Linked DNA regions of Homo sapiens: region 2 is linked to region 1. Evidence: fine-mapped expression QTL. A gene starts in region 1. The other region holds a variant in brackets. All regions are shown on one strand. Distances are between the middles of the regions. Region 1 holds the start of ITPKC (inositol-trisphosphate 3-kinase C). Region 2 overlaps ITPKC (inositol-trisphosphate 3-kinase C).

The links. PIP is the estimated chance that this variant, and not a neighbour inherited with it, causes the effect.
Region 2: its variant is fine-mapped to the expression of ITPKC in lymphoblastoid cells (GEUVADIS, PIP 0.90).

Annotation. Positions count from the first base shown.
Region 1 is chr19:40,711,510-40,722,452 of GRCh38, forward strand. It overlaps ITPKC (inositol-trisphosphate 3-kinase C), which reads left to right and starts at 5,603. Exons shown (of 7, transcript NM_025194.3): 1 at 5,603-6,781. The coding sequence starts at 5,627. It overlaps COQ8B (coenzyme Q8B), which reads right to left and starts at 5,377. Exons shown (of 15, transcript NM_024876.4): 1 at 5,078-5,377; 2 at 3,022-3,126; 3 at 2,769-2,888; 4 at 2,558-2,624. The coding sequence starts at 3,123. RefSeq lists silencers at 4,124-4,173, 5,494-5,853 and enhancers at 4,844-4,923, 7,427-8,128.
Region 2 is chr19:40,736,071-40,747,013 of GRCh38, forward strand. ITPKC (inositol-trisphosphate 3-kinase C) reads left to right here. Exons shown (of 7, transcript NM_025194.3): 5 at 916-1,017; 6 at 1,628-1,699; 7 at 3,287-4,790. The coding sequence ends at 3,490. ACTMAP (actin maturation protease) reads right to left here. Exons shown (of 6, transcript NM_198476.5): 2 at 9,060-9,128; 3 at 8,489-8,613; 4 at 7,997-8,126; 5 at 7,835-7,905; 6 at 4,791-6,700. The coding sequence ends at 6,363. Among named protein-coding and RNA genes, the nearest start is that of ACTMAP, 8.9 kb to the right of the region's middle. RefSeq lists enhancers at 7,972-8,938, 8,939-9,904. The variant C/T (reference allele first, on the strand shown) is at 6,034.

The sequences.
Region 1 (10,943 bases):
TACCAGGCTTGACCTCTCCCTTTCTAAGCCAGTTATTTCTGCATCTCTTGCCTTCTCCCCATTTGTCCTATCTATCTAGATCTCTTTCTCTCTTTTCCTCCCTTTGATGTTATCTCTCCATCTCTGATTTCCTCTGCTACCTCTCCTCTTGTCCCTAAAGACGTCTCGGGTCTCTCTCCTTCTTTTGTTGTCACCATCTCTGTCAATTACCATATCTGGCATTTTCTGTGTCCTTTCTACATGTCAGGGGCTGTTCCCAGTGCCTTCTGTGCACTTACTAATTTTTGTCCTTACATGAGGTCTCCACCTTCATAAAATGTATTTTACAGAAAACTTCCATTTTACAGAAAAGGAAATTGAGGTTCAGAGAAGTGAAGTAATTTGCCCAGAGTCACGTCACAAAGCGAGGACACAGCAGAGTCATCCCTTAATCCCTGGGCAGCCTGGTGCCAAAGCTCTAACCAGTGCCTTTGACTGCCTCTGCAGACTGTGAATCTATCTATGTATATATATATAGATTTTTTTTTTTTGAGACAGAGTTTCACTCTTGCTGCCCAGGCTGGAGTGCAATGGTGCGATCTTGGTTCACTGCAATCTCTACCTCCTGGGTACAAGCAAGTGAATCTATATTTTTAAAACTTGAACCAGGCGGGGCATGGTAGCTCACGCCTATAATCCCAGCACTTTGGGAGGCTGAGGCAGGTGGATCACGAGGTGAGGAGTTCGAGATCAGCTTGACCAACATGGTGAAACCCCATCTCTACTAAAAATACAGAAATTAGCGGTCAGGCACAGTGGCTCACGTCTGTAATCCTGGCACTTTAGGAGGCCAAGGCAGGCGGATCATGAGGTCAGGAGATCGAGACCATCCTGGCCAACATGGTGAAACCCTGTCTCCCTAAGAAAAAAAAAAAAAAAAACAACAAAAAATAGTTGGACGTGGTGGCGTGCATCTGTAACCCCCGCTACTCAGGAGGCTGAGGCAGGAGAATTGCTTGAACCTGGGAGGTGGAGGTTGCAGTGAGCTGAGATCATGCCACTGCACTCCAGTCTGGGTGACAGAGCAAGACTCCATCTCAAAAACAAAAACAAAAACAAAACTTGAACCATGATCAGCAATAAGAAGACATTTACGTTATAACCAGTGCAGACCAAGGTATATGTTTCACGAAACAAGACTTTCCCTTGCTCTACAGGTGCATGCATATTTTCTGTCCTATTCTTCTTTTTAAATGCTGGTTGCAACCCACTAAATTATTTCATGTGACTTGCACGACATCCGGCTGTGTAACCCAAAGTCAAGTGACCTCCCCTTTGTTAGCCTCAATGTCCTCATGTACGGAATAGAACACTCATTGATTCAGTGCAGCATGTGTGTATATGGGACACTGCACATTACAGGTTCTCAGTAAATGTTATTATGGCCAGGAGCAGTGGCTCATGCCTAGAACCCCAGCACTTCGGGAGGCCGAGGCAGGAGGATCGCTTGAGACCAACTTGAGCAACATAGGGAGACCCTATCTCTACAAAAAAATATTTTTTAAATTACCCAGGCCAGGCACAGTGGCTTCCCGGGCACCGTGGCTCACATCTGTAAATCCCAACACTTTGGGAGGCCGAAGTGGGTGGATCACTTGAGGTCAGGAGTTCAAGACCAGCCTGGCCAACATGGTGAAATTCTGTCTCTACTAAAAGTACAAAAATTAGCCAGGCGGCCAGGTGTGGTGGCTCACGCCTGTAATCCCAGCACTTGGGAAGGCTGAGGCAGGCGGATCACAAAGCGAGGACATAGCAGAGTCATCCCTTGAACCCTGGGCAGCCTGGTGCCAAAGCTCTACCACTGCCTGACAAACATGGTGAAACCCCGTCTCTACTAAAAATACAAAAATTAGCCGGGTGTGGTGGATGCATGCCTGTAATCCCAGCTACTTGGGAGTGTGAGGCAGGAGAATCGGCTTGAACCCGGGAGGTGGAGGTTGCAGTGAGCCAAGATGGCGCCACTGCACTCCAGCCTGGGTGACAGAGGGATACTCCGTCTCAAAAAAAAAAAAAAAAAAATAGCCAGGCATAGTGGCAGGCACCTGTAATCCCAGCTACTCAGGAGGCTGTGGCAGGAGAATTGCTTGAATGTAGGAGGCAGAGGTTGCAATGAGCCAAGACGGTGCCACTGCACTCCAGCCTGGGCAACAGAGCGAGACTCTGTCTCAAAGGAAAAAAAAAAAAAAATTACCCGGGCGGATGGTGCACAACTGTGGTCCCAGCTACTCAGGAGGCTGAGGCGAGAGAATTGCTTGAGCCCAGAAGTTTGAGGCTGCAGTGATCGCGCCACTGCACTCCAGCCTGGGTGACAAAGTGAGACTCTGTCTCAAAAAAAAAAAAAAAAATTATCATTTATGTTCCTCTTGATTTCTCTTGGCCTTGCAGGCCCTTGCCTTTGTCTCTCTTTTTTTGTCTCTCTCTCTTTCCTGTCTCTGATTCATCCTCTCCCTTGCTTCAATCTGTAAATGTTGCCCTTTCTAATTGAGGTCACACCAAGATCCCCCAAAGTCACACCTACCCCCAAAGTTGGCCAAGCGGCTGATGCGGGAGGCAGGCACCTTGCGTTCTCGAGAGCGGTCACTCAGCTGGGAAATGGGGACAAGGTCTGAGGGTGGGAAAGTGGGCATCGTGGCCAGAGAGTGCAGCCACTCTGCCACCACACCCTTCCCCAAGCTCAGGGGGCCAGCAGTATTCGTGGGGTGTTGCTGGGTGGGTGGGGGTAATGATACCTGGGGCCGGGGTGTCTTCCTGGGACGGGCCTCCCGTGCCCTGCGAATGTCCTCCTCACCCAGGCCTCTCCCAGGCCCATCCTGGTAAAACTTTTGGGCCCAAGAACCTCCACATGGTCCCTGCAAGAGATATACTTTGATAAGGAGGGGAGGACATGGGATCACCTGGCCCTTCTGGACCCCTCCTGTCCTTTTACCCTCTGAAGTCTCCCTCAGCCTCTTCCCCTTGGGGACCTGCTCCCTAGCCTCTTACCCAGCGGTGGGGCCCAGGCCCCAGGGCCCCACAAGGCCAACCAACAGTCTGGCCCAGCTGTCCACCGGTCCCCCGAAGTAGGCCCCCCACCTTCAGCCACATTGCCTGGAGGAGAAGAGGAGGGATTATTCAGGTGGGAGTTGCCTGGCTTCTTGGCCAGGCCCCCATGTTCCTCTGTGTCCACCCTCTCTCATTCCCACCCACTAAATACTTCCTCCACTATTAATAGATTCCCACAGTTTCTCCTGGTTCTCCCCTGGTTGCTAGGAACCCTTAGCTCTTCCTGCAGGCCTCCCAAAACCCACTTTCCCCCCTCTCCCAACCCTCGCCGTTGCTAGGGTCCGCCCCCGTTACTAGACACCCACAGTTCCTCAGGGGCTACCTCTCCACTTCTCTGAAACCCCCCTCGTTGCTATGCACCGCCTTCCCCTCTGTTGGCCCTGTAGGCACCCGCAATTCCTCCGGTGTCCCCCCGCCCGATCCCCACCCCGTTACTGAGCACCTCCCCCCGTTGCTAAGCACCCACTGCTCTCAGCCTCCGAGTCCGCAACCTGCTGGGGCCCTCCTGTGCTTCCGGGAGCCTCTGTATGCCCGCCCCCTTCGGCCAGCCAACCAATGGCGCGGCAGCAACTCGCTGACTGGCACGGAGTTTCTCCATCTGTGCGCGGGGGAAGGGGCCAGAGAGAGGCCCTAGCGATGGAGCCTGGAATTAAGGTGGGCATCGGGGGCCCATCTGGGGGGATTGCTGAGGCATCGCGGGAGCGCAAGCGTGCCCTGTCTGCCCTTCCACTCACCTCAAAGTGCCTTGTACGCGACAGACCCTTCTGTTCCCTACACTTTCTTGCAAAGTCTCCCTTACAAACCTGACGCCTCTCTTCTGCACGAATATCTTGCCAACCCCCCTTCTTATTTTTACCCCTGGCAGGCTCAACACAATTCCTTTGAATACACATTCTTCCCAGCAAACATTTCCCTTGCACATGGAGCCCCTCCACTTTGCACAAACACCCACATTCTGGCACCCAACCTCCTTCCTTGTGCATATAAATCCCTTGCCTTGCTTGCCAACTGTTTCCCGCTCACGCCTTCAACTCTCTCGTGTACATACCCTCCCCCCCACTTGCACACTGAGTCTCTGTTCCCTCACACACCCTGTTCTCTCCGCTCCCCGCCCACCTGCGGAATGGTGCGACTGGGAGCCCTCTGCTTCCTGTAGGCCTGACATTTCCCAGAACACACTCAGCCAAGATTCCCAGTGCTGAGTCAGGAACCTTGGCATCCCAGAAAACCACCTCCCATCCTATCTTTCTTTCTCTGTGTGTGTGTGTGTGTGTGTGTGTGCGCGCGCGCGTTGGAAAGCCTGCTCTCCCCACAACAGGCTGACTCACCCACTTCTCACAGTCTGGAATAGAGGCATCTGGTTGGGGCATCTTTCCCACCACTGGGAGAGGGAGGGATGCCGATGCTTCCCCCACAGAACCCCGCTGCCCCAACCCCTCTTGTCGGGAATCAGGCCTCTTTGTCTCTATTCCCGTACTGTGTGACCTCAGAAAAGCCCTCATCCCTCTCTGGACTTCTCCTTCCCAACCTGTATGAGGTACTAGGTGGGCTCCTGCCTTCGATTTCTCTCATTGGTCTGTGAAAAGGTGACTCATTTTAGAGCCTTGGACCTGTGCCCAATGTCTCCCCCAGTTGACTCAATTTCAAGACAAACCACCTCCTCTCCCCCTTCAGAGGTGAACGGCTGACTCAGGAGCTGGGTGGCAGCTCAGCCTTGGGGGCAAAATATATCAAAATCACCTAGGACAATAAATAATCCTACTGGGCTACAACTGACAGTGCCAGGCCCGGGGCCACATGCTTCACATACATGAGATCATGTCAGATAGCCCCGTAGCTGCAAGCAAAGGGTAGAGGCCGGCAGATCTCTGAGCCTCTGTTCTCACGTGTAAAATGGAGCCCTGGCATCCCTATTGTTCAGCCTTGGAGAATGAACTGAAATCGTGTCAGGGTCTGATACAGAACAAGTACTCTATACATGACAGAGATTTCTTACGGAAAATCCAATGGAGCGTAAGTCATTTGCTCAGGGTAGCGGAGCTGGGAACTGGCAGAGGAAGGTCTCGAACCCACACCCGTGGGAACTCCAAGTCTTTGAAAGTCCGTCCCGCCCCTGCGTGAAGAATGGGCGCGCGGCTGGACTCGTCACCGGGGGTTTTAGGGAAGGTTGAACTTGTCATTCAACCGTGTAGGGAGGGTGGTTTAGTCACAGGGGTGGAGGGAGGGGGCCCACTGGCGCGCCACCAGGACCCCGGTGCCCTAGATGCATACCTGGCCGCGCTTCGGATGCTCAGAGGCAAACCCCCTCCCCTTGGGAGGCGGAGTCGGACAAGGCTCCGTCTCGTTCCGTTCCGTCACGTCCGGTGGGGCGGGGCTTCGGGGCTTTCCCCTTTGAGGGGAGTATCGGTTAACCCTTGCGCGGCGGGGCGGGCTGGAGCTCCGCGGGCCGGAACCCGGGAGTCGGGGCTCCCCAGCCACACCCCTCGCGGGATTTAAAGGGATAGGAGGGGCCGGGTCGGCCGAAGCCCGAACCGAAGGAGCGGGCATGAGGCGCTGCCCGTGCCGTGGGAGCCTGAACGAGGCGGAGGCCGGGGCGCTGCCCGCGGCGGCCCGCATGGGACTGGAGGCGCCGCGAGGAGGGCGGCGGCGGCAGCCGGGACAGCAGCGACCTGGGCCCGGCGCAGGGGCCCCGGCGGGGCGGCCGGAGGGGGGCGGGCCCTGGGCCCGGACAGAGGGGTCCAGCCTCCACAGCGAGCCTGAGAGGGCCGGCCTCGGGCCTGCGCCGGGGACAGAGAGTCCGCAGGCAGAATTCTGGACAGACGGACAGACTGAGCCCGCGGCAGCTGGCCTTGGAGTAGAGACCGAGAGGCCCAAGCAAAAGACGGAGCCAGACAGGTCCAGCCTCCGGACGCATCTAGAATGGAGCTGGTCAGAGCTGGAGACGACTTGTCTTTGGACGGAGACCGGGACAGATGGCCTTTGGACTGATCCGCACAGGTCCGACCTCCAGTTTCAGCCCGAGGAGGCCAGCCCCTGGACACAGCCAGGGGTTCATGGGCCCTGGACAGAGCTGGAAACGCATGGGTCACAGACTCAGCCAGAGAGGGTCAAGTCCTGGGCTGATAACCTCTGGACCCACCAGAACAGTTCCAGCCTCCAGACTCACCCAGAAGGAGCCTGTCCCTCAAAAGAGCCAAGTGCTGATGGCTCCTGGAAAGAATTGTATACTGATGGCTCCAGGACACAACAGGATATTGAAGGTCCCTGGACAGAGCCATATACTGATGGCTCCCAGAAAAAACAGGATACTGAAGCAGCCAGGAAACAGCCTGGCACTGGTGGTTTCCAAATACAACAGGATACTGATGGCTCCTGGACACAACCTAGCACTGACGGTTCCCAGACAGCACCTGGGACAGACTGCCTCTTGGGAGAGCCTGAGGATGGCCCATTAGAGGAACCAGAGCCTGGAGAATTGCTGACTCACCTGTACTCTCACCTGAAGTGTAGCCCCCTGTGCCCTGTGCCCCGCCTCATCATTACCCCTGAGACCCCTGAGCCTGAGGCCCAGCCAGTGGGACCCCCCTCCCGGGTTGAGGGGGGCAGCGGCGGCTTCTCCTCTGCCTCTTCTTTCGACGAGTCTGAGGATGACGTGGTGGCCGGGGGCGGAGGTGCCAGCGATCCCGAGGACAGGTCTGGGGTGAGTGGGACCCATCCTGCCCTTGAGCCACATCACGCAAAACTCCTTATTCCTCCGCCTTTGCTTAGGAAGTTCTCTACCCATTTACTGTTAGTTGCCCACCAGCAATTTCATCTCCGGGAACCTCTTCCATCCACTGACCTCCTCCCTCTGACAGCCAGGTTACTAATTCACTCCAGGCACCCCTTCTTAATTCTCTCCTTTCCCCTTCCTGCACTGTCTCCACTCCTGGGGGTCTACAATGGAGGGCCACTGACCGACTTTATGGGGCCCAGGAACCCCTGAAATTGTAGGACTAAGGAGCCTGCCGTGCGTGTTCACATACATTGTTGCAGCGACGGTCTGACATCTGTCTAATCCTCTGGAATCTGAAGAACACTGGGATAGGGAGACAGGCAGGGTGCACTTTCTACCCCACATTTCTTAATCTGGGGCCTGTGGCTGTCTTAAAGGGTCACAAACCTTCACCACCCCTTAGCCTATTTGTATGTACATTTTTCTAGGGAGCAAAGCGATTCCCCCAGCTTGCATCAGATTCGCAAAAGGGCTGTGTGACCCCAAACGCCAAAGGATCCTTGGCCTAGCCGGGAGCCCACCTGGTCTCCCCTGTGACCCCTACATCCCCAAGGAGCCCCCTGAACACTCTTGTTTACTTTGTCCACCGTCACCCCCAGCTTGGGTGTGGCTCTCCCCTGGTGAATCAGGAGGACCGGCCGGGCAGGTTCAGGGAGGGCGGGACAGAGCAGAGGCCGGTGTGAAACTGGAGAGCCTCACGTGGGGCTGGGAGCCGTGGGGCTGGGAGCCGAGTCCGGAGTCCATCAGCTTGCCAGCTTGCCTGCTGAGGCCTCTTTTTGCTCTGGGGCCCCTGGCTGGAGTCTGCCCTGAGCCCCGCTTCACCCCACATGCCTTCCTTGGGGACGTGTTCACACATGTGGCCCTAGCTGTGAGAGACAGACCTGCCTTGACGTGCCTGTGCCTGTGTGCAGGGGCTGACCCTCCTGGGCCCCATTGCTTTTTTCTCTCTGCCTGCCCTCTCACTTCCTTGGCATCTCAGAACAGCTGAGCTGGAAGTGGGTGAATAATAATAATAATAATAATAATAATAACAACAACAATTAGCACTCACTCATGTTTAGCCCTGTGCTAAGTGCTGTGCTTTTATTAACTCACTCACTCCTCGCAGCAACCCTAATGAGGTAGATACTTTTTTTTTTTTTCTGAGACAGTCTCGCTCTGTTGCCCAGGCTGGAGTGCAGTGGTGCCATCTCGGCTCACTGCAGCCTTCACTTCCTGGGTTCAAGTGATTGTCCTGCCTCAGCCTCCTGAGTAGGTGAGACACCAGGTGCCCGCCACCACACCTGGCTCATTTCTGTATTTTGAGTAGAGACAGGGTTTCATCATGTTGGCCAGGCTGACCTCAAGACTCCTGACCTCAAGTGATCCACCCGCCTCAGCCTCCCGAAGTGCTGGAATTACCAGCATGAGCCACTGCACCCGGCTGAGGTAGATACTATTATTATCCCCTTTTACAGATGAGGAAACTGAGGCACAGAGAATTCAAGTCACTTGTCCAAGGATATCACCTTGCAAGATGCAGATCAAATAATTCTAATCCTTACTGTACACCAGACACTGTTTTAAGTTTTTTCTTCTTTTTTTTTTTTAGTCTTTTTTGTCAATTTTTTTCTGTCATTTTTTATCTTAAAATAGCATCTATCTTAATTAAGGGCTTTGTATGTGTTAACTCTGAGTCCTTATGACAGCACTGAGATTGTCTCCATTCAACAGATGGGGGCCAGGCTCAGTGGCCCAAGCCTGTAATCCCAGCACTTTGGGAGGCCGAGGCAGGGGGATCACCTAAGGTCAGGAGTTCAAGACCAGCCTGGCCAACATGATGAAACCCTGTCTCTACTAAAATACAAAAATTAGCCAGGCGTGTGATGGCGGGCACCTGTAATCCCAGCTACTTGGGAGGCTGAGGCAGGAGAATCGCTTGAATGTGGGAGGCGGAGGTTGCAGTGAGCCGAGATTGCACCACTGCACTCCAGCCTGGGTGACAGAGCAAGACTCGGTCTCAAAAAAAAAAAAACAAAAACAACAGATGGGGAAGCTGAGGCATAGAGAGGTGAGAGATTCTTTGCTTAGGGTTGGCCACGTCAAGTCAGAGCCAGGATTCTAACTCAGTTCTGGCTGAGTTTCAAACCCATCGTTTAAACCCTCCAGTGTGTAGATCTGTTCCTAACTTGTCTCCCTCCCAGGCCTCCCTATCTCCAGTTTTTTTCTCATCCTTCCAGAATCTGCCTCCATGGCCCAGCTTTGTCTGCTCAGGTGCCCTCTCTGAGAGCAGTCAGGGGCTCAGTGCTGCGTTTGGAGCCTCCGGTCTCCAGGCGCCTTCCCAGAATCGACTTCCTTCCCTCCTCCTGACCCCCTCTGCTGTAACTAGGCCTGAGTACACACTGTTCCTTGAACACTCTTCTGTTGTCCTGCCTCCACGCATTGCTCAAGCCGTTCCCACTGCCCAGCATACCCGTGCTTCCTTCTCCCTTAATTTTGAAATCCTCTCTGACCGTAAAGGCTCAGCTTCCTTTCTCCCTTTCCTCCTTCCTTCCTTCTCACCATCCTGTCCTTTTTTTAAAATTGTGTTCTCTTTCTTTTTCTTTTTTTGGTAGGGATGGGGTCTTGCTATCTTGCCCAGGCTGGTCTTGAACTCCTGGGCTCAAGTGATCCTCCTGCCTCAGCCTCCCAAAGTGCTGGGATTACAGGTGTGCTATCCTATTCTTCTAATGAGACAAAAATCACTCCCTAAGCCCCTACCATGTATTTGGTCCTATGTTAGCTTTGCTGGGGAAACAGCAGTGACCAAGACACTCATGGAGCTCCCAGGCCCATGAAAGAGACAGACCAATCAGCCGACAGTCACAGTTCAGAGTGGTCAGGAGGATGTGTGAGCCCAGAAGGAGGTCACTGGCCAGACACAGGGTATCAGAGAGGGCTTCCTGGAGGAAGGGGCATATAAGCTGAGACCATTGTGAAAAAAATCCGAGAAAGCCCAGATAAACCATTGGATCTAACTTTTTTTTTTTTTTTGGAGGGCGTGCAGTGCGGAGTTTCACTCTGTTGCCTAGGCTGAAGTGCAGTGGCGAGATCTCAGTTCACTGCAACCTCAGCCTCCCGGGTTCAAGTGATTCTCCTGCCTCGGCCTCCCAAGTAGCTGGGACTACAAGCGCACGCCACCACGCCCGGCTAATTTTTTTTTTTAGTAGAGAGTGGGTTTCACTATGTTGGCCAGGCTGGTTCTGAGCTCCTGACCTCAGGTGATCCACCCACCTCAGCCTCCCAAAGTGCTGGGATTACAAGCATGAGCCACTGTGCCCGGCCCGGATCTAACATAAAACAGAGAGAGAAGATATTATGTTTATGATTAAGGGGCCAGGTGTGGTGGCTTATGCCTATAATCCCAGCACTTTGGGAGGCTGAGGTGGGAGGATTGCCTGAGCCCAGAAATTTGAGACCACCCTGGGCAACACAGTGAGACCTCATCTCTACTAAAAGGAAAAAAGAACTAGCTAGATGTGGTGGTATATGCCTGTTTTCCAGCTATTCGGGAGGCTAAAGCAGGAGGATTGCTTGAGCCTGGGAGGCAGAGGTTGCAGTGAGCCAAGATCACACCTCTGCACTCCAGCCTGGGCAACAGAGTGAGATCCTGTCTCAAAAAAAAAAAAAATTACTATTAAAAAAATCCCAACTAACATTCTTCAGTCCAAGCATCAAAGAATGTTTCTGGAGCGTCTGTCGTGTGCCAGGCCATGTGCTGGGGACATAATCATAACCATGACAACCCCAGTCTCTGCCATCATGAGCTTGTAGTCCAGCAAGTGTGTAGGGGATAAGCCCCAAGGCACTGGGATCCAACCAGAGCTAGAACCCCAGCGCTGTGTGGGGTGATGTTAGGTAAGTGGCTTCACCTCTCAGACCCTCTGTTTCCTCCTTTGTAACACCGAGACGATAATCTCCCTGGGGTTGTGTTTTTAGAAATTAAGTAGGTTGTGGCACACTGAGTCTTTGTCATTGTGTCTGGAATGTTCCAGGTACTTAGTAAACAGGAACCTTTATTAATCATCTCTTCCCCAGGGCCGGCAGCTGGATTGGGGAGGGACTAGCC
Region 2 (10,943 bases), 25 kb after region 1:
CATGAGGTCAGGAGATCGAGACCATCCTGGCTAACATGGTGAAACCCCGTTGCTACTAAAAATACAAAAAATTAGCCAGGCGTGGTGGCGGGAGCCTGTAGTCCCAGCTATCAGGAGGCTGAGGCAGGAGAATGGCATGAACCCAGGGGGCGGAGCTTGCAGTGAGCCCAGGTTGCACCACTGCACTCCAGCCTGGGTGACAGAGTGAGACTCTGTCAAAAAAAAAAAGAAAAGAGCAGAGTCACGATTCACAGCCAGCTCCACCCTGCTCCAAAGCCCACTTTCCTAGATGGGTTCAACCAGGAGGTTCAAGGTTGGAAGGGTGTGGAAGGACTGGGGCTCAGGCATGTGACCTGGGGCTGGGTTGAGCTGGGCTGGGCAGGTAAGCTGGCTTCCTCCTCTGGCAGCAAGTGTGCAGGCAGGTGGGTGGCCCTGGGAAGTTGTTTTTTTTGAGACAGAGTCTTGTTCTGTCACCCAGGCTCGAATGTAGTGGTGCAATCAATGCTCACTGCAACCTCTGCCTCCCGGGTTTAAGCGATTTTCCTGCCTCAGCCTCCCGAGTAGCTGGGATTACAGGCGCCCGCCACCACACTTGGCTAATTTTTTGTATTTTTAGTAGAAACGGGGTTTCACCGTGTTGGCCAGGCTGGTTGTGAACTCCTGACCTCAAGTGATCCTCCCGCCTCGGCCTCCCAAAGCACTGGGATTATAGGCATGATCCCACACCTGGGACCACAGGTGCATACTACCACACCAGAATTTTTTTTTTTTTTAAATAGAGATGGGGTCTTGCTGTGTTGCCCAGGCTGGTCTTGGCCACCGCGCCCGGCCTCCTGGGAGGTATTTGAGGTTGCTGGGTATTGGGTGCGGGAAGGAAAAGCCCATGACCCTGCCCCTCCACACCCTGCCCTACAGAAGGCAGATGGGACCTGTAACACCAACTTCAAGAAGACGCAGGCACTGGAGCAGGTGACAAAAGTGCTGGAGGACTTCGTGGATGGAGACCACGTCATCCTGGTGAGTGGGACACCCATGTCCCAGAATGTAGCAGCTTAAGACAGCCACCATTTATTCTTGCTCCAGAGTCAGTGGTCTTCTGCTTTGGGTGGGGCTGGACTGATACTGGCTGGCTTTGCTCAGTCTGAGGTCAGCTGGTGGCTTGGCAAGGCTGGCTGGTCCAGGGGGCCCTGCTCCCAGCTCTGCCGGTTGGCTCATGACTTGGCCGCACGTCTCTCGATAGCAGGATGGCCTGGGCTTGCTCTCACAGTGGAGGCAGGGGGCCAAGAGAACAAGTAAAAATGCAAGGCCTCTTGATGCCTGGGCTCAGAATGGCCACCATCATTTCTGCCGTTCGGCAAGTCATGTGACCCAGCCTGGATCGAGGGGTCTGGAGACAGACTCCGCCTCCGGATGGGAGTGGAAATTCATGGAATCCACCACTCTTCTCCATGCCACCTTGATGAATCCAAGCCCTCACTCCTCTGCCCTGTCTTCCCCATGGCTCCCCTATTCCATCCTGGCTAGAGCCTGCCTGCTCCTTTGGGGGAATGGGGTGAGGTCAGAGCTCAAGGTGGGCAAGGCCCCACAAAGTCCCCATGCTAACCAAAGAACGCTCCCTGTCACACAGCAAAAGTACGTGGCATGCCTAGAAGAACTTCGTGAAGCTCTGGAGATCTCCCCCTTCTTCAAGACCCACGAGGTGCGAGCCCTGGCTTCCATGGGTGGATGTATGGGTGTCGGGGTCCAGGTGCATGGAGGGGAAACCATTGATGAGTTACAGGTCAAAGATATAAAAAGGGGCTGGGCGTTGTGGCCCGCACCTGTAATACCAGCACTTTGGGAGGCTGAGGTGGGAGGATTGCTGGAGCCCAGGAGTGCCAAGACCAGCCTGGGAAGCACAGCAAGACCCCGTCTCTATTTGGAAAAAAAAAAAAAAAAAAAGGCCGGGTGCAGTGGCTCATGCCTGTAATCCCAGCACTTTGGGAGGCTGAGGCGGGCGGATCACTTGAGGTCGGGAGTTTGAGGCCAGCCTGGCCAACATGGCGAAACCCCGTCTCTATTAAAAATACAAAAATTGGCTGGGTGCGGTGGCTCATGCCTGTAATCCCAGCACTTTGGGAGGCCGAGGTGAGCAGATCACGAGGTCAGGAGATCGAGACCATCCTGGCTAACACAGTGAAACCCCGTCTCTACTAAAAAATACAAAAAATTAGCCGGGCGTGGTGGCGGGCGCCTGTAGTCCCAGCTACTTGGGAGGCTGAGGCAGGAGAATGGCATGAACCCGGGAGGTGGAGCTTGCAGTGAGCCGAGATTGTGCCGCTGCACTCCAGCCTGGGCAACAGAGTGAGACTCTGTCTCAACAACAACAACAACAACAACAAAATTAGCCAGAAATTGCTTGAACCCAGTAGGCAGAGGTTGCAGTGAGCTGAGATTGTGTCACTGCACTCCAGCCTGGGCAACAGAGTGAGACTCTGTCTCAAAAAAAAAGCAAAGCTAGGCATGGTGGTGCACACCTGTAGTCTCAGCTACTCAGGAGGCTGAGGCAGGAAGAGGGCTTGAGTCCAGGAGGTCAAGGCTGCAGTGCATTTTGATTATGCCTCACACTGAACATTTGCTGTGTATTTGCTATGTACCAAGCACTGTCTTAAGCACTTAATGTAGATTAATTCCTACATATAATATGCCCAGCAGCCTCTGAGGTAAATGATCCTACAGTCGACCCCTTATCCTCAGGTGATCTCCTCCAAACCCCCAGTGGATGCCGGAAACTGTGGATAGTACTGAACTATAGACTGTGTTTTCTCGATCTGATAACCAAGATGGCTCCTAGGTGACTAGTGGGTGGGTTGCGGATACAGCATAGACTTGCTGAACAAAGGGATGATTCGCATCCCAGGTGGGACGAAGCGGGATGGCACGAGATTTCATCACAGTAGTTAAACCAATGTGCAACTTAAAACTTACACATTGTTTGTTTCTGGAATTTTCCACTTAATATTTTTGGATCGCACTTGACTGAGAGTAACTAAAACCAAAGAAAATGAAACCACGGACTGGGGAGACTAACTGTATTACTCTCACTTTGTATATGAGGACGCAGAACCACAGAGAGGTTAAGACACCTGCCTAAGGCTGCACAGACAGGAGGTGGCACAGCCAGGATATGAATCAGGCAGCCAGGCTCCAGGGTTCATGCTGTCAATCACCCTGCTCTGCTGCCTGTCAGGAAGGGACCTTGGCCAGTGCCTGCTCCTCCCTTAACCTCCCGTCTCTACCCCGGCAGGTGGTAGGCAGCTCCCTCCTCTTCGTGCACGACCACACCGGCCTGGCCAAGGTCTGGATGATAGACTTCGGCAAGACGGTGGCCTTGCCCGACCACCAGACGCTCAGCCACAGGCTGCCCTGGGCTGAGGGCAACCGTGAGGACGGCTACCTCTGGGGCCTGGACAACATGATCTGCCTCCTGCAGGGGCTGGCACAGAGCTGAGCTGCTCAGCCACCATCAGGTTAATTGGATGGCGCCAGTCTGGCTGGAGGAGCCCTGAGATGCCATGGGAGGCCTGAGGTTGGCCACGGGGGAGCTGGCCTCCAGGGACGGGAGAGATTGTGTCATGTGCCACACGAGACCAACGTGGAAAAGTCTGAAGGGCCTTGGGAGACCAGGTAGCACCTGGCCCCATCATGATGCAGGGGTTTTGGGGACCTGGAAGGAAGGTGATGAGGCAGTGAGTCAGAAAAACCAGAACGGGGTCCCCGGATCTGCCGGGAAGGCTTCTGAGGGGCTGCCCTGAGAGCATTCAGTTCACATGTCACAGGGTATGGTGTGACAGGGTGCCTGTGGACACATGAATCACTTCTAACCTGCCTCCCTGTCAGCCTCCAGGCTGCCAGCTGGCTGAGGCCAGGGACTGGGTCAGGCTCATCTGTGGCGCCTCAGAGGGTCAGCATCATTGGTGAACAGATGCAGGCGCTGCTGGACCATCTGGGGAGAGTGACAGTCCATGTCTTCACCAGGGAGCCATTTGAGTGCTGAGCGACAAGAGGCTCAGAGGGCATGACCCCATGGGACTGGATGCGGCCTGAGGGCTGATACCGCTGGGCGGTATCCTGCCCTGCTGTGGCCCTGTGGGATCCTCCGTGTTCCTCGGCGGACTCTGCTGACCTCCTGCAGACCCAAACCACAGCCACATCCCAGCTTCTGTGCCAGCACTGTGACAGTACCTCGCTCCTCTGTGCACCAGATCCGGCCTCAGGACTTACACCTCCTGCCTGACCCCCAGGCTTCTCTCTCCTTTCTCCCAGCAAACTGCAGTGGCAGAAAGGAGGTTCAGAGGCTGGGAAAGTGGGCCTCCCCTTGCAACTCAGAGCTGCTGCACTCAGGAGGGCCCCATCCAATCCCGGGCCCCTGCAGGGAAAAGCGCTGGGTGTGTGTCAGAGGCGCAGGGTGGGTGGGGCTGCCAGCCAGGACCCTGGCCTGCAGCCTGATCCAAACCAAAGACTGTAGAACCCTGGGGTGTGGCTAACGGCCCCTCCAGCACCCATAGCCAGGTCTTCCTGGCCCTTGAGGCTGGGCTGGCGGACAGGCACCTACCTCTTCCTTAAGCTGAAGCTCCCACACTGTCTTCCAGGGCTGAGGAGATGCTCTCCTTTTCTACTGACCATCTTGATACTTATTTATACGAGAGGCAGTTGCTGGACGGGGTAGTACTGGGAAGCAGGAGGCAGAATGGCTCTGCTGAGCCTCCTACCCATGACAACACCCCAATAAACAGAACATTCAGAGCCAATGTCGTAGAGCTTTTTATTTTGCATCTGGAGTGTATTTGGACACGTGGGCTGGGTGGGGTAACAGGATAATGAGCAGTTTGGGAAAGAGGCAGGCTCCAAGCAGGCTGGTTCACTCACTTGGCAGTCACTGGGCGGCTATTCTTGTGCCTGGATGTGTTACAATGCAGGGGACACAGTGGTGAGCAAGGCTGCTCCAAGCCCTGGCTGGGATGGGGGATGCACAGACAGGCTGATCAGGGCTGGGATGGTGGACACGCATCCTCTTTACCCTGATCACTGGTTAGAAATACTGCACTGTGGCCGGGCTCAGTGGCTCACACCTGTAATCCCAGCACTTTGGGAGGCCGAGGCGGGTGGATTACTCAAGGTCAGGAGTTCGAGACCAGCCTGGCCAACATGGCAAAGCCCCGTCTCTACTAAAAATACAAAAAATTAGCCAGGCATGGTGGTGCATGCCTGTAATCCCAGTTACTTGGGGGGCTGAGGCAGGAGAATCACTTGAACCTGGGAAGTGGAGGCTGGAGTGAGCTGAGATCACGCCACCGCACTCCAGCCTGGACGACAGAACGAGACTCCATCTAAAAAAAAAAAAAGCAACAGTGCTCTGTAGTTTCCCTAAATGAGATGGGCTCAGTTAGGGACAGAGAAGTGATCCAGACAGGCCTGTTCCTCCTTCAGAGTGGAGGGGTCAGGTATTCATGAAGCTAGTAATCACACACACTCACTAGAAGTTTGTATAAGTGGACAGGAAAGTTTGTGGTCAGCACCATAATGTTCAGGGAGCCAGGAGACAGCCTGGCTGAGATACTGACTACCTAGCTTGAATCCTGACCTTGCCATGTGCTAGTCATGTGACCTCAGGCCAGTGATTCCACTTCTCCAGGCCTCAGTCTTGCCATCTGTCAAATCGGGTCCATCTAGCACCCCCCTTACAGGGTTGCCAGATCTGCTAACACAGGTAGAGGGGCTGGCACAGGTAACTGCTCCCAGATGGGCTTTAAAACTGTGAAGACATGAGGTGGGGGAGGGGTGTCTTGACTGGGGCTGCAGGACTCTTCCCTGAGGTAGTGATACCTGAGCCCCAATGGAAAAGTTAAGGAGTGATCCGCAGCAGAGGGCTGGGGGTGGGACTCAATGATCCGGGGATTTGAACAACACTTCAGGGATCTAAAAGGCCAGTATGACTAGTAGGTGGCAAGCATGAGGAAGACCTTGGGCTAAGGAGGGGTGAGCTGAGGCTGA[C/T]GCAGTTCAGTGTCCCTGTCCTGTGAGAAGCAGAGGGCCCAGGCAGGAGGTTCCTCAAATGTCTAGTGAGATGACAGAGGCGGCCCCTAGTGAGAAACAGACGATGCGACATTCAGATGGAATAGGCAGGCCGCAGGGTCCGGGCTGTTGTCAATCTCTCCCTAGAGGGACCAGCTGGTGCTCAATACTGCAGGGGGTGGCCCTGATGAAGGAGGACTGGAGACCCCTGAGACCTAGCTTCAATCTTGTCGCCATCACACAGTGGGAGAAGTGTAGGCACACTTCAAATGGTTACCGAGCTAGGCTGCAGCCTGAGACCGCAGCCGCAGCTAATGGCTGCAGTCCTGTGGTGTGAGGAGCAGGGCCTGGCCACAGAGGCCAGCCCGTACCCCACCCACGGGCACCACGTACACCCGGCCGTCAGTGGCCCGTGAGGGCGAGAAGTCCGTCAGCTGCAGGTTGCTCTCCCGGACCTGGTCGTAGTCCCACAGCTGATAGTGCCAACTCTTGCCCTGCTTGGACAGCAGGTAGACAGCTCCCGGGGAGCCCTCCTCTGGCAGGGATGGTGGTTGGCAGGGCGTGCCCAGCACTGGGTGGAACAGGCCCGGCAGCTCAGGGTCCTCAGTGTAGCCGAGACTGGGCACAGCCCGAACACCCAGCAGGACCCCTGGGGGAGAGGAGAAGGTGGTGAGTGGCAGTGACTGAGCCAGGACCAGGTGCTGGGGCTCACTAAGTTCCGCCCTCTCCCGGCCCTCCAGGGTGGGTGCAGCTGCCATTCCTAGGTTACGGTGACGTTAGTGGTGGCCAGTGGGTTGGGATTTGGACCCACCGTGGCACCCGGCTCCAAAGCTGTAGGTGTTTTAAGTCTTGCCTCATCTGGCCTGAGCACAGGGGAGGTGGGGAGGCAGCATGAGATGAAGCAAATGCCGTCACCCGGTCATCCTCAGCTCTTTAGGGAAGAGGCTCCAAGAGGAGCTGTCAAGACCACAAAGCCATGAAGAAGCTGAGCGGAGCCTCCCCCGGACCTCCTGACGCGGACCAACCTGGCCTTCTTTCTTTCAGGCAGGGGGAATGATGAAAACGGTGCTGGTAATACTTACAGAGACATGTCACACGCCAAGCCCTGTTCTATTTTTTTTTTTTTTTTGAGATGGAGTCTTGCTCTGTCACCCAGGTTGGAGTGCAGTGGCACGATCTCAGCTCACTGCAACCTCCGCCTCCCAGGTCCAAGCAATTTTCCTGCTTCAGCCTCCCAAGTAGCTAGGATTTCAGGCATACACCACCACGCCTGGCTAATTTTTGTATTTTTAGTAGAGACAGGGTATCACCATGTTGGCCAGGCTGGTCTCAAACTCCTGACCTCAAGCGATCCACCCACCTTGGCCTCCCGAAGTGCTGGGATTACAGGCGTGAGCCACCGCGCCTGGCCAAGCCTTGTTCTAAGAGTGCTGAGTGCTCTGCCTACAAGGCAGCCTTATGAGGTGGGTACTGTTACCCCCAATTTCCAGATGGGGAAAGGAGCTGTCCAGAGAGGTGATGATACCTGCCCAGAGTCACAGAGCCTAGAAGAGGCTGTGCCAGGCCTGGAGCCCAGACGGTCTGATCCTGAAATCTGTGCTCTGAGCTTCTGTTTGTAGAAGCTCCAACTGGCAGACACCTGGGGCCCAGCCTGCCCGGTGCTAATGCTAAGTGCCCAGCCTGGCTGGGGAGGCACCAGCACAAGGGGTGAGAATGTCAGGAGGATTAATGGAGGCCGGGGAGACCCAGGTTGAGGGGTGCAGACAAAGGAGGGGGAACCCACCTGCACTCACCGCCCAGTGTGCCTTGTGGCCCTTCCTCTGACACGGCTCATGGTTGAAGTCCTCGTCGTAGCTGGTGCTGGCATTAAGGTAAAAACGATGGTGTGGCCCTGGGACCCACCCTTTGCCACCCCTGCCCTCCTCTCTCCCAGGCCCTGGGATACGGGATGAGCAGGGGATGTCCAGTGACCAGGTGCTGCAGGACGAGGTCTCTGTTGGGACCGCCCAGGCCACCAGAGAGCAGCTTGGCCTGGCAGCCCAGCACCTCCTGGGCCAGCCTGCCCATATCGGCCACTGCAGGGTGAGAGCACACAGAGGGGGCTTGCTGCATGTGCCCAGCACCGTGCTGAGGGCTCACAGTGGGCGATGCTTCCAACCCTCACCATGACCTTCCACCCCTTGGTACAAATGCAGAAAATGAGGCACAAAGAGCGTGAGTGGCTTGTCCATGGCCCCAGCGAAGAGGTGGCAGAGCTGGGTTTGCAACCTAGGCAGCCAGCTCAAGTCCATCTTGTAACCTCTCTGCTCTACTGGGCAGTGGGAAGGGCCCAAAGAATGGAATGAGACACCCTGACACACGGCTGCCAGCATCCCACCCAGCCTCTCTGGTCCCAGCCTCATGAAGAGATGATGGAGCATGCAGTCACCCAGCTCACCTGAGAACATCTCTCCCTGGGCCGTGTAGCCTCTTTCCGTGGCCACCCGTATGAGTCTCTCCAGGGGGACGCCACTGGGGGGCGACAGGAGAGTACCTGCCATCCACAAGGCCACCAGCCCGCATCTGGGGACAGAGAGGCCCAGCCTGTCAATCCTATGTCACAGCCCCCTTACCTGGAAGCTGGAGTTGGGGAACAGGTTTGCTGCCCTGGAGGAGTCCCCCTCCCCTCTCCCAGGCCAGCGAGGGAGACCTGACTCCCCTTCAGGGGAGAGCCCAGGGCTGGAGGGCTGGGGGTGGAAGGCGGGGGAGAGGTCACCTGAGCTTCCTGGGAGGAGGAACCAAGGTGGAGTTAGAGAGATGGACCAGGCTCATTCGTTCATTCCTCGCATGTCCCAACTATGTTTACTATGCAGGCACTCAGAAGCCTGAGTGGAAAGTTCCCCCTTTCCTTCCCTCCTCCTCCCAGCAGGGACAATCCACTCCTCTTCTCCAGATCAGTCCTTAAGAAGCCCAGCAAGGGCAGAGTAAAGGCAGCAGATGGGCTGGGGTTCCCGCATCAGGGCACATACTGAGGGCCTTCTTGGATGAGGGACGGCAGGTCTGCACAGAAGAGGATCCACCGCAGGTCACCTCGGAACCTGAAGCAGAGCCGTGCTCAGTCACCAGGGAGCCAGCTCTGAAGCACCCCCTACCCTGAGGTCTGGCTGGGAGTGGTCGTATCCAGGGATGATGAAGGGAATATGGGCCTGGCTGTCCTAAGGCTGAAGGCGGCTCCTGGTTCAGTCACTGACTTCCCCTCCCCAAGCTTCAGTTTCCTCATCTGGTTTGTGGGAATGGTCCTTCTGCCTGCCTGCTCCCTGCTCGCTCTCTCAGTTATTGAAGGGTGAGGAGCAAAGGGTGGCACTTTGCAACCAGGTTTATCTGAGGAAATTTCTCAAAGTGGTATCTCTATCTCCAACTCTTTTTCTTGCTCTGTTGCCCAGGATGGAATGCAATGATGCAATCAAAGCTCACTGCAGCCTCGACCTCCCAGGGTCAAGTTATTCCTCCTGCCTCGGCTTCCTGAGTAGCTGGGAGTATAGGCATGCACCACCATGTCCAGCTAGTTCTTTTTATTTTATTTTATTTTGAGACAGAGTTTTGCTCGTTTTGCCCATACTGGAGTGCAACAGCGCGATCTCAGCTCACTGCAACCCCTACCTCCCGGGTTCAAGTGGGTCTCCTGCCTCAGCCTCCCGAGTAGCTGGGATTACAGGCATGCGCCACCACGCCCAGCTAATTTTGTATTTTTAGTAGAAACGGGGTTTCACCATGTTGGCCAGGCTGGTCTCGAATTCCTGACCTCAGGTTATCCACCCACCTTGGCCTCCCAAAGTGCTGGGGATTATAGGCGTGAGCCACCGTGCCCGACTCTTTTTATTTTTAGTAGAGATGAGATCATGCTATATGTTGCCCAGGCTCCAAACTCTGTGATTTGTTTTTCGCTTCAAGTCTGTTTCCTGGGCTGTTCAACAATGAAAATCCCTTAACTGAACTTTGAATAAAACCAGGTAACAACATGCTTAAGGCCTAAAACATCACCTTGATAGTGAATCTTTGTACCCTGGGGGAGGCCACTCAGATAGTCTGGCCCTGAGGGATTCATTCCTTTTTGTTTGTTTGTTTGTTTGTTTTTTGGGACAGAGTTTCCCTCTTGTTGCTCCGGCTGGAGTGCAATGGTGCGATCTTGGCTCACCACAACCTCCGCCTCCTGGGTTCAAGCGATTCTCCTGCCTCAGCCTCCTGAGTAGCTGGGATTATAGGCATGCGCCACCATGCCTGGCTAAGTTTTTGTTTTTGTTTTTGTTTTTTTTTGAGACAGCTGGAGTGCAGTGGCCCGATCTTGGCTCACTGCAAGCTCTGCCTCCCGGGTTCACGCCATTCTCCTGCCTCAGCCTCCCGAATAGCTGGGACTGCAGGCTCCCGCCACCACACCTGGCTAATTTTTTGTATTTTTAGTAGCAACAGGGTTTCACCCTGTTAGCCAGGATGGTCTCGATCTCCTGACTTCGTGATTTGCCCGCCTCAGCCTACCAAAGTGCTGGGATCACAGGCGTGAGCCACTGCACCCGGCCCTTTTTTGTATTTTTAGTAGATACGGGGTTTCTCCATGTTGGTCAGGCTGGTCTCGAACTGCTGACCTCAGGTGATCCACCCGCCTCAGCCTCTGAAAAGTGCTAGGATTACAGGCGTGAGCCACCATGCCCGGCCTCCTTTTTTTTGTTGAGATGCAGTCTTGCTCTGTCGCCCGGGCTGGAGTACAGTGGTGCGATCTTGGCTCACTGCCACCTCCACCTCCTGGGTTCAAGCAATTCTCCTGCTTCAGCCTCCCGAGTAGCTAGAATTACAGGTGTGTGCCACCATTTCCGGCTAATTTTTATATTTTTGGTAGAGACAGGGTTTTGCCATGTTGG